2 separate regions of the Homo sapiens genome follow, and region 2 is reported to be linked to region 1. The links are microRNA targets in miRTarBase. Many come from high-throughput screens and were not tested one by one. Region 1 holds a microRNA gene; the other region holds the end of a gene's coding sequence.

What was found. The annotated mature microRNA hsa-miR-4254 reads GCCUGGAGCUACUCCACCAUCUC and lies in region 1 at 1,955-1,977, shown strand. An mRNA with a match to its seed (bases 2 to 7 or 8) in the 3' UTR can be bound and repressed. Matches are read on the target gene's strand: a 7mer-m8 pairs with bases 2 to 8, a 7mer-A1 pairs with bases 2 to 7 and ends in A, and an 8mer does both.
Region 2: the mRNA of RAB6B is a reported target of hsa-miR-4254. Seed matches in the 3' UTR shown: 7mer-m8 at 2,337-2,343.

Annotation. Positions count from the first base shown.
Region 1 is chr1:31,756,262-31,760,646 of GRCh38, reverse strand. MIR4254 (microRNA 4254) reads left to right here and starts at 1,912; the gene lies at 1,912-1,987. It overlaps ADGRB2 (adhesion G protein-coupled receptor B2), which reads left to right. Exons shown (of 33, transcript NM_001364857.2): 2 at 3,136-3,265; 3 at 3,366-3,446; 4 at 3,832-4,385. The coding sequence starts at 3,426. RefSeq lists enhancers at 3,452-4,056, 4,057-4,385.
Region 2 is chr3:133,824,952-133,829,336 of GRCh38, forward strand. It overlaps RAB6B (RAB6B, member RAS oncogene family), which reads right to left. Exons shown (of 8, transcript NM_016577.4): 8 at 1-3,901. The coding sequence ends at 3,837. It also overlaps a transcript of SRPRB not described here. Among named protein-coding and RNA genes, the nearest start is that of SRPRB, 21 kb to the left of the region's middle.

The sequences.
Region 1 (4,385 bases):
GATAAACGCGACGGATGTGCGCGTCGCCGCGCCCCTTCCCCCGGCCCGCCCCTCCCCCGCCACCCAGCGTGAATGGGAGTCATCCTGGGAATCCCGGACCGGCCCTGGGCCTGAGACACCCCTCTCCCGCTGCTCTGCCCCTTACCCCACAGTCTTGCCTTGGCCCTTTCAGCTGCTGAAAGCTTTGAATTCCTTTATTGGTGCAGAAGGGAAGCTGGGGAGCCCTGAGGGGTGGAAAGAAAGGGGACTTGAGTGTGTTTGGGCAGAGTGAGATTCTTGGGTTTGCTGGGGTCAGGGGCATGTGGTGAAGGCAGCCCCCAGCCCCCTAGAGGAGGGGCCTTGGTAGGGTTAAAAGTGAGAGGGAGACTACTTCAGCCAGCTCCGCACCCATCTCTGAGGCAGGAGGCCTTTTGATCCTCCTCTCTATCAGCCACCTCTGGCCCAGGAAGTTCTTCCTCAGAGCTGACTTTAGTACCTCTCCTATCTAACTCTTGTGCAGGGATGGGTCTGTGGTCTTCCTGGGTTTGGAGGTAGCCAGCCACTTATGGTTCAACCCAAAGAGCCTTCCCAGAGGCAGTGCCCTGTACCTCAGCAGGCAAGAGGGCAGCGTTTATGAGGTCCTGAAAAGACAGAGAGGAGACAGGGCTGTGAGCTAGGCTCTGTGCTGGGAACTTGTTGGGAGGCTGATGAGGTGTCTGCCATCCCCAGGGCAAGGCTCATGGTCTGCATTGCACAGAGAGGGAAACAGGCTCAGGGGGGTTAATCATGACTAAGAGCCACTTGGGCTGCCTGTGAGGCAAGGATCATCCTTCTAGGTCCCCTTCCCGGGTGGCTCAGGGAGAGGCCTCTGGGTCATCAGTGCCCCCAGGAGGACAGGCCTGGCTATACACAGGCAGGAGGGTCTTCAATGAACCAGTGGCTGTCTGTGACCCAGCTTGGAATTGGGTCTTTGCCTTATTTTGAATGGTGGGAAGTAATATAAAAAGGCGCCCCAAAAGGTCTTATGTCATAGCCGGCACAGTGAGGGTTACGCATGTCCAGGACGAAATCCCAGAATGAGCGTGAAGGTGTCTGAAGGAGACTGAGGGGAGGAGGGGGGTTGGATTGGGTTAAAAGTGACTCCATTCTGGAGAAGCCAGCCTGTGGCTCTGAAGGATGTGGACCTTGTGCTTCTTGATGGGGCGGGGCTGTGGAGTAGGGAGCAGCAGCCTAGGAGCAGGGTAGGGGAGGGAGATCCAGCTTCAGACATGCAAAGGAAGACCCCGCAGAGGATCCTGCCTGACACTTAGCTGTCATATGCTGAGCCTCAGAGGGCCAGATACTCATGTGTGTTCTCAGTCGAGAATGCGTGTGCACCTCTGTGCATGTGTACAAGTGTAAGCCTCTACACCCCTGTGTGTGCGTGTTAACTCCTGAGTGTGTGTGACAGCATGAATCTGTGGGTTTCACCTGTGTGCATGTCCGTGTACATATGTATCCATTCATATGCAGAACTCCTGTGAACATCTGTGCCCTCATGCTTTGGTGTGTGTGTCCTCAGGGCACAAGGGTGTTCAAACCCATGTGTGTTGGTGTGTATGTGAGGGGAGGTTCCCTGAGCTGCTGTAAGTGGGGGAGGGGAGGCCGGTTATAATGAGCCCCTACCTCCCCTCCACTGAGCCGCAGCCATGGCCTGAATTTTGCGGCTTAAAAATAATTGGGGGCAGCAGGGGGATTGGATGTCACTCATCATCAGCCGCTGGCTTGGCTAGTGCCGCAGCAGGTGGGGCGAGCTGAGCAGTGTGGGACAGGCATGATGTAGGGTGGGAAAGACCAGGGGTCTGATCCCTTTTTCAGCTCTGAGGAGGAGGGTGGGTGGTTGGGGGGAGAGGCACAGCCTGTCTGGCTTCCGCCGAATAACTCCATGTGGGTCTTGGGAGGAGGGTGGGGTGGCTCCTCTGCAGTGAGTAGGTCTGCCTGGAGCTACTCCACCATCTCCCCCAGCCCCTGTATGGCTGGGAGGGGAAGATGCTTGCTTGGGCCTGGCTTGGAGGTGCAGCATGAAGGGATGTGGGATCTGGAGCAGTGGGGAGCTCCATGGATGCTGCACAGGGACTGGAAAGTTGGGGTTCTAAATTCTGTCCCCCCTCTGCCTGCTGTTTAGACTCCTGAAGACCCAAGGGGAAGTCTGTTCCCTGGGAGCAACTGTGTCTTGGGAGAATCTAGTCATACCTGTGAATTGTCCTGTGTTTCTGATTCAGTCCCCAGAGCTAATAGCTGGTCCATCTGGCCTGAAGCCTGAGCAGCAAGCCTAGGGAAGGAGCAGAGGCTACTGGTGGAGGGAGACAGGCCTGGGCTGGGCCTCAGATCCTGGGCTTGCGTCCTCTGTGGCCACCTTTGTGTGATCTGGAGCGGGTTGTCTCCCTTTTCCTAGCCCCATCTTTTCTCCTCTGATGAGGACCAGCTGGGCTCTAGGGGGCCCATGCAGTGCTGTGAGCTATCCTGTGGCATGCAGGAGGGAGGCCGCTTGGATTACTTGGGGGGTAGGATTGGAAGTGGGGCTGATTCAGACCACGCGCTAGGTTCCATTTTCTGGGCAGTTGGGTAGAGGTTGCGCAGGCTGTGGGCAGTGACACAGCCCTGGCCTGGTGGGTGGGAGGGCACCTGCAGCTCCCCCCATCCTCAGCCCTTACCCACTCTGGCCTGACTGCTCTGTGTGTCTGTATGGGTCGGGCTTGGGTCCTAGGTGCCCACCCACACCTGGAGTACATTCACACCTGTTGGGAGCTCAGCTTAGGGCAGCACTTTAAGGGAAGGTAGAAAGCAACAAGCTTGGGTCCCCACTCTTAGGAACTGGAAGACCCATAAGCTGAATGAACTAGCCTTGGGGAAACAGTATAGGAGAGAGGTCACGACTGGCTGGTGGCTTCACAGGTGGGTAGTGGGGGGTGGGGTAGCAGGCCCTGAACCAGGCCTTGGAAGATAATCCCATGGAGCTGGAGGGGAAGAGGGAAGTAAGAGGGGGAATTTCTGCACCCATTTTACAGATGAGAAAACTGAGACTCATGAGGGTCACCCACCAGCAGGTGGCTGGCTGGGTTGGGGCTCAAGCCCAATGTCCCCTTACTCGGTGCCTCTCCCCCTTATTCCAACCAGGAAATCCACAGCAGTGATACATGTGACGTCCACACTGACAGTGCCCTCCTGTGGGCATGGCTCAGGTTGTGCGCAGTTCCTGGCACACTGGCTGTAACTCCGCCCCTTTCTCTCCCTCTCAGTAAAGCAAGTGAGTGAGAATGACATTGTTCCAGGAATAACCTCAAATTGCTCTAATTTATAAAAAAGCAAATCATAGTCAAACATCACCACTTTGACAATTACCACAGGATTACGCGGTGACATGCCTCACAGCTGATCACGACACACGGGGATGGAGAGCAAGAGTTATGGAGAATACAGGTTGGATGGTGAGGCTGGGGCTGGATCTGAATGCAAGGCGAATATGCTTGTAGTTGATGGGCTGACTCTGAGGAAACAGAACGATGGCAACAACAACTACTGTTTCTTCAGGGCTCACAAGATTCCAGGCACTCTCGCGAGTCCTTTCCCTTACTTATTTCACCCTTGTAGGAAACTTGTGCGATAGGTCCTATCATTGGTCCATTTTACAGGTAAGGAAACTGAGGCTCAGAGAGGTCAAGTCCCTTGTCTAAGTTCACACAGGTGGACCCAGGTGACACTTCAAAGACCAGGGTCTTAACTTATGAGGCCCACTCCCGCAGCTCACCATAGAAGGTTCAGAGCCCATGCTGGCTGTGCTGGGGGCCCGCTGACCACTGTCTCTCTCCACAGGGCAAGGGACATAGGATGACCCCAGCCTGTCCCCTCTTACTGTCTGTGATTCTGTCCCTGCGCCTGGCCACCGCCTTCGACCCCGCCCCCAGTGCCTGCTCTGCCCTGGCCTCGGGTGTGCTCTACGGGGCCTTCTCGCTGCAGGACCTCTTTCCTACCATCGCCTCGGGCTGCTCCTGGACCCTGGAGAACCCTGACCCCACCAAGTACTCCCTCTACCTGCGCTTCAACCGCCAGGAGCAGGTGTGCGCACACTTTGCCCCCCGCCTGCTGCCCCTGGACCACTACCTGGTCAACTTTACCTGCCTGCGGCCTAGCCCCGAGGAGGCGGTGGCCCAGGCGGAGTCAGAGGTGGGGCGGCCAGAAGAGGAGGAGGCAGAGGCGGCAGCGGGGTTGGAGCTGTGCAGCGGCTCAGGCCCCTTTACCTTCCTGCACTTCGACAAGAACTTCGTGCAGCTGTGCCTGTCGGCTGAGCCCTCCGAGGCCCCGCGCCTGCTGGCGCCCGCTGCCCTAGCCTTCCGCTTTGTCGAGGTCTTGCTCATCAACAACAACAA
Region 2 (4,385 bases), not on the chromosome of region 1:
CTCCATCCTGGTTTTCCTGCCTGTAGACAGGAAAAGTTGTGACAGCTCTGCTTCACATAGCTGTAACAAGGTGACAATGCCTCACATTCTTTGGGGAGAGGCAGTTCGGAAACGAGTGTGCGCACAATCTGCTCGGTTGATGCACACAGACATCCTTCTGTTCAGCTGCCCCTCAAGTGGCTCAGACATGCCTCACTGTCCTCGGCTACCTGGTCCCATCTCATCCTGACATCCTCACCTGCCTTCCATCTTGTGAAGGAATGAGGCTGCTCTACCTGCAGGATGCTGAAGCCAGGAGGGCCATCCCTTTATTGTCACAACTGGTATCCCAGGGCAGGGCCTCCCCGCACTGGCTAGCCACCAGGATGATGCAGACGTTGCACCCCAGATGTGTCTGCACTCTTAACTACCACCATTTCAATCCTTGTTTCTGTTGCCAGAGATACTGAAACTGGTCTGGCCATTGCTCCCCTCAGACCTGGGAACATGACTGAATGTTTAAGGATGACAAGAAGAGAGCAGCGATAGATAGCAAGGAGGCCTCTGACCAAGGGAAACTGCTGCCAACAGCTACCAAGCCAACTAGCCTTGGATCACACAACTGCAGCCATGGTGCTCATGATTCTGATGTCACACCTTCATGTTGATGTATGTATGATCACCCAGCAAGTTAGGAGTGATCAGAACCAATGTGTTTCCACTTGTAAATAGGCTGTTTGCTTTTTCCATCTTACACTCAACTTTCCTGATGCCTGCAGAACAGGAGCTTTGTTGATAAGCTTTTAAGATTCACCCCCTTCACTCCCACCATCCCCAAAAAAGAAGGCCAAGAGGATCCTGCTAATCTGCCAGGTCACGTCTAGTCTTTGGGGAGAGGGACTGAATTGCTCAATTGAGAACATTTCCTCAAAGGAATCCTCCAATTTGCCCTCTGCTAACCCATCTGGATTCAGCAAAGATGCAATGCTCTTGCTGGGGTGCTGAGGCAATGCCATGACATCTTCTTCAAGAGCACCTAACAGTTTATTATGGAACCTTAACTCTGTGCCAATTCTACCTGCAAGCAAGGGGACAGGGATGGTGCCTGCTCAAGACAAAAATCAGGGAACCAACAACTTCTGAAAAAGAGGTCTGGCTGCCTTTCCACACCCCAGGAAGGGAGGGGCGGAAACCGCACGTGCCGAAGGGAGCGCCATGGAACCACTGAGATGGGAGGATGGGAGGAAGCCACCCTCAGCCTCAGAGGCCAAGGGGCTGGGGAGAACCCAAACTCAAAGAGAGGATGTTGTGTGCATGCTAGGAAAGGCAGGACTCACTAAGGCCATGTCAAACCAAATGCTATCTTTTACTGCTCCTCTAGGCCAGGATGGAAACACAGTCCACGGTGCCTTGGATGTGTGTGCCCCTGAGAAGGGAACTGAGTTTCTACTGTTTTATGGGATGTTTTTTTAAAAAAGCTAATCTTTAGTGCCAAGAAAATAAAAATCTACCATACGTTCATTCACTGAGACCCAGTGCAGATTCCTGTAAATGGGGCGGTCTCAGAGGCCACAGGTGATGGCCCCCGCTGCCAACCAGGCAGGACACTGTCATGTGGACTCCTGTAAATTCTCTCGAGGTAAGTAAGCACTCTTCCAACAAGCACCACTTGGGGGTGTGCCCATGGTGGGGGGACACTGGCCCACACAGGCATGCACACCCGTGCATATAAAGTACATAGAGAAATGGTGGAGATATTCCCGTGGGCTATGTTTGCCTGTAGTTTAACACAACTATGCATTATTTTATTGATGGCAAGACAATCACAAGTTATTTGACAATATTAAGTATTTCTTATTTCAACACGTTGCAGTACTTTTGAATTTCCAAAACTTATCACAATGCAAGTTCCAACTTGAGAGCAGGAGAAACAAGAATATACATTGAGCACATGTATCTCCGTGAGGATGTGTTTGTGGAAGGTGTATACACAAGTCTATCTCTATATATAATTATGTACACACATATAAAAACTAAACACATGACATCTGAAACACGTTCAAACATTGGTCCTTGCCTTCTGCAAGAGGTGCTCAGTGGGATCCTGCTTCCTCTCTTCTTCACCTGAAGATAAATTCCTTGCTAGAGATGAGCTCTGGCATACAGCCTCCTAGGCAGAGGGTGTGTGGCAGGCCCACTGCACAAATATCAGTCCTGCCAGATTCTGCTGCACTTACTGCCTGCCATTTCAGATTAATTTCTGAGAAGTTTCAAAATTCATTCCAACGACCTTGTGGAGTTCAGCCCACCATACCCCAGATGGTCATTCATCCCATCTATGACATGCCCAGCAGCAGCCTGGAGGGAGAGCCAATGACAGCAGGGAGGGTGGGGTTTACATTTTGGCCAGACTCACTGCCCATTGCACCTGGCTCTGTGCAGGCTCAGGGCAGTGAGTCTGAGTCTATTTGGAATGCTGGCCAAGTAGGTTATATCACTTAGTGGGAAGAGAGAGTTCTCTTCAGAGACTTTGCAGATTCTCAGGACTAAGCCATTCTCAGGAATGAATCAAAAATGGAAGAGATGGCTCTCTGGGGGCAAGCAGCCTTCTGGAGACCCCACCTGAACCACATCCTCAGGTGACCACAGCGCAGCCACAGTAGCCACAAAGATATGTCCACAAAGACTTCAACTGCGCCATGCCACTGGGGTGAAAACATAGCAACAAATCAGCTTTTCCAGAAAGCACTCAACAATATTAGCAGCTGAGGCTCTAAGAACATGGATCTTTCAAGGTGGTGGTTCTGCAGACAACACCCCCCCCCCCCCCCGCCTCCCCATCACAGAGGATCAACTCCAGGTGGTCCAGCTTCCCTGACATCCAGGAGGAAGGCTTCAGGATGGCACACTGCCCAACATCACACACTGAGTTTCTTAGACTTGGCCCAGGCATGTGTACTGACTGCTGGGTGGGCTGGTTAAAATATTTTCAGAAGTACACATGGCACCCCAGTCTATAAACCACGCACCACGCAGCTGCAATTGCCAACAGCACCTCGTCCTTCTGATGGCCTCTTGCTCTGCCAGTCCCTGAGGGCACAGAGAACACAAGGTTGCCTGTACCCTCAACCCCCTTCAAGGCTTTTCAGGGAAAGAGAAGGAGAGGTGGGAGCAGTTCCTCTGGGGGCTGCTGCCGGGCTGCCTAGAGCCCACAGACCTTGGTCTCAGCTCCACACGAGGTTGACGACCCACTCTGGCCATGGAAAGACAAGAGTCAGAGCTACCTTTTCAGAGGCTGATGTGTTCAACCAATGTTTGATTTAACTGGAGTAGGGCCTAGAGAGTGGGGCCAGATGGCCCCAGACTGAAGCCTAATTAATTTGCTCAGTTAATTGTTTTAATTTATTGGGCTGGGGATAGGAGGAAGGCAGAGGTGATGAATGGTTCAAAGAGAACAGGAAGGAGGAGGTGTGTGGAAAAGGTTCTCTATAAGTTTACAAATATACAAAAACAAAAAGCACATCTTTCAAATAAAAATGACTACATTTTTATCTGGCAAAAAATTGTATACACATGATTTAAATTTTTTTTAAATTTTAACAGTTTTTGGCAATCTTAATAAAGTACAATATATTACAACCAAACCAAAAAATAGTTGTTTAAGTAACAGCCGTTAAGAGTGATGTGATCCCTGATGCCCAGCCTCCCTCCCCATCCCACCCTACTCCTAAAGACAGAGAGAAAAGAAAAATCCTCCCATCTTGATAACTCGGTTCCCTCCCCCCTTAGGAAGCTAGCCAATAGGAAGCAACACAACAAGCAAGGAGTGTCATGGGAAGCCACAGGTCGGCTCTGCATTAGCAGGAGCAGCCGCCCTCGCTGGCCGGGGGCTCCTGGGGTTTGTCCAGCTTGATGTCGATCACTGCAGGGGGACGGGCTAAGGAAGATGACTCTCCTGGACAAGCTGCCACCCCACTTAGCCCTGTGCACTGTACCCTTTGGCTACTGCTCTGTTTCTCTGCAAACACCTAGGGACTTGGCTCTTGGTTTGGCTGGGCTAGGAAGGATGCAATACCAACTCCACCTTGCCTCCTCTTCCCTTCACCCGTCCACTTCCCCCAGCGCCTGTCCACCCAAGCAAAGCCTGTCTTGCCTGGGCCGTGGGATCACCATCTATACCAAGGCCAGGGAGTCCCTTTCCCAGAAGCCTTCCCTCGACCAGTGCTCAAATGCCAGCTCCCAGCCCTGGCCTCAGCCCAGTTACCTGTCAGCCCCACTCAAAGTGCAATGGAGATGAAGAGCCTGCTGGGTTCACATCTCAAAGCACAGGGGTATGTGGGCCTTGCCTAATTGGCAGCAGGAGCAAACCCTTCAAGCTTTAGTCAGAACACATCACTTAGATCCTG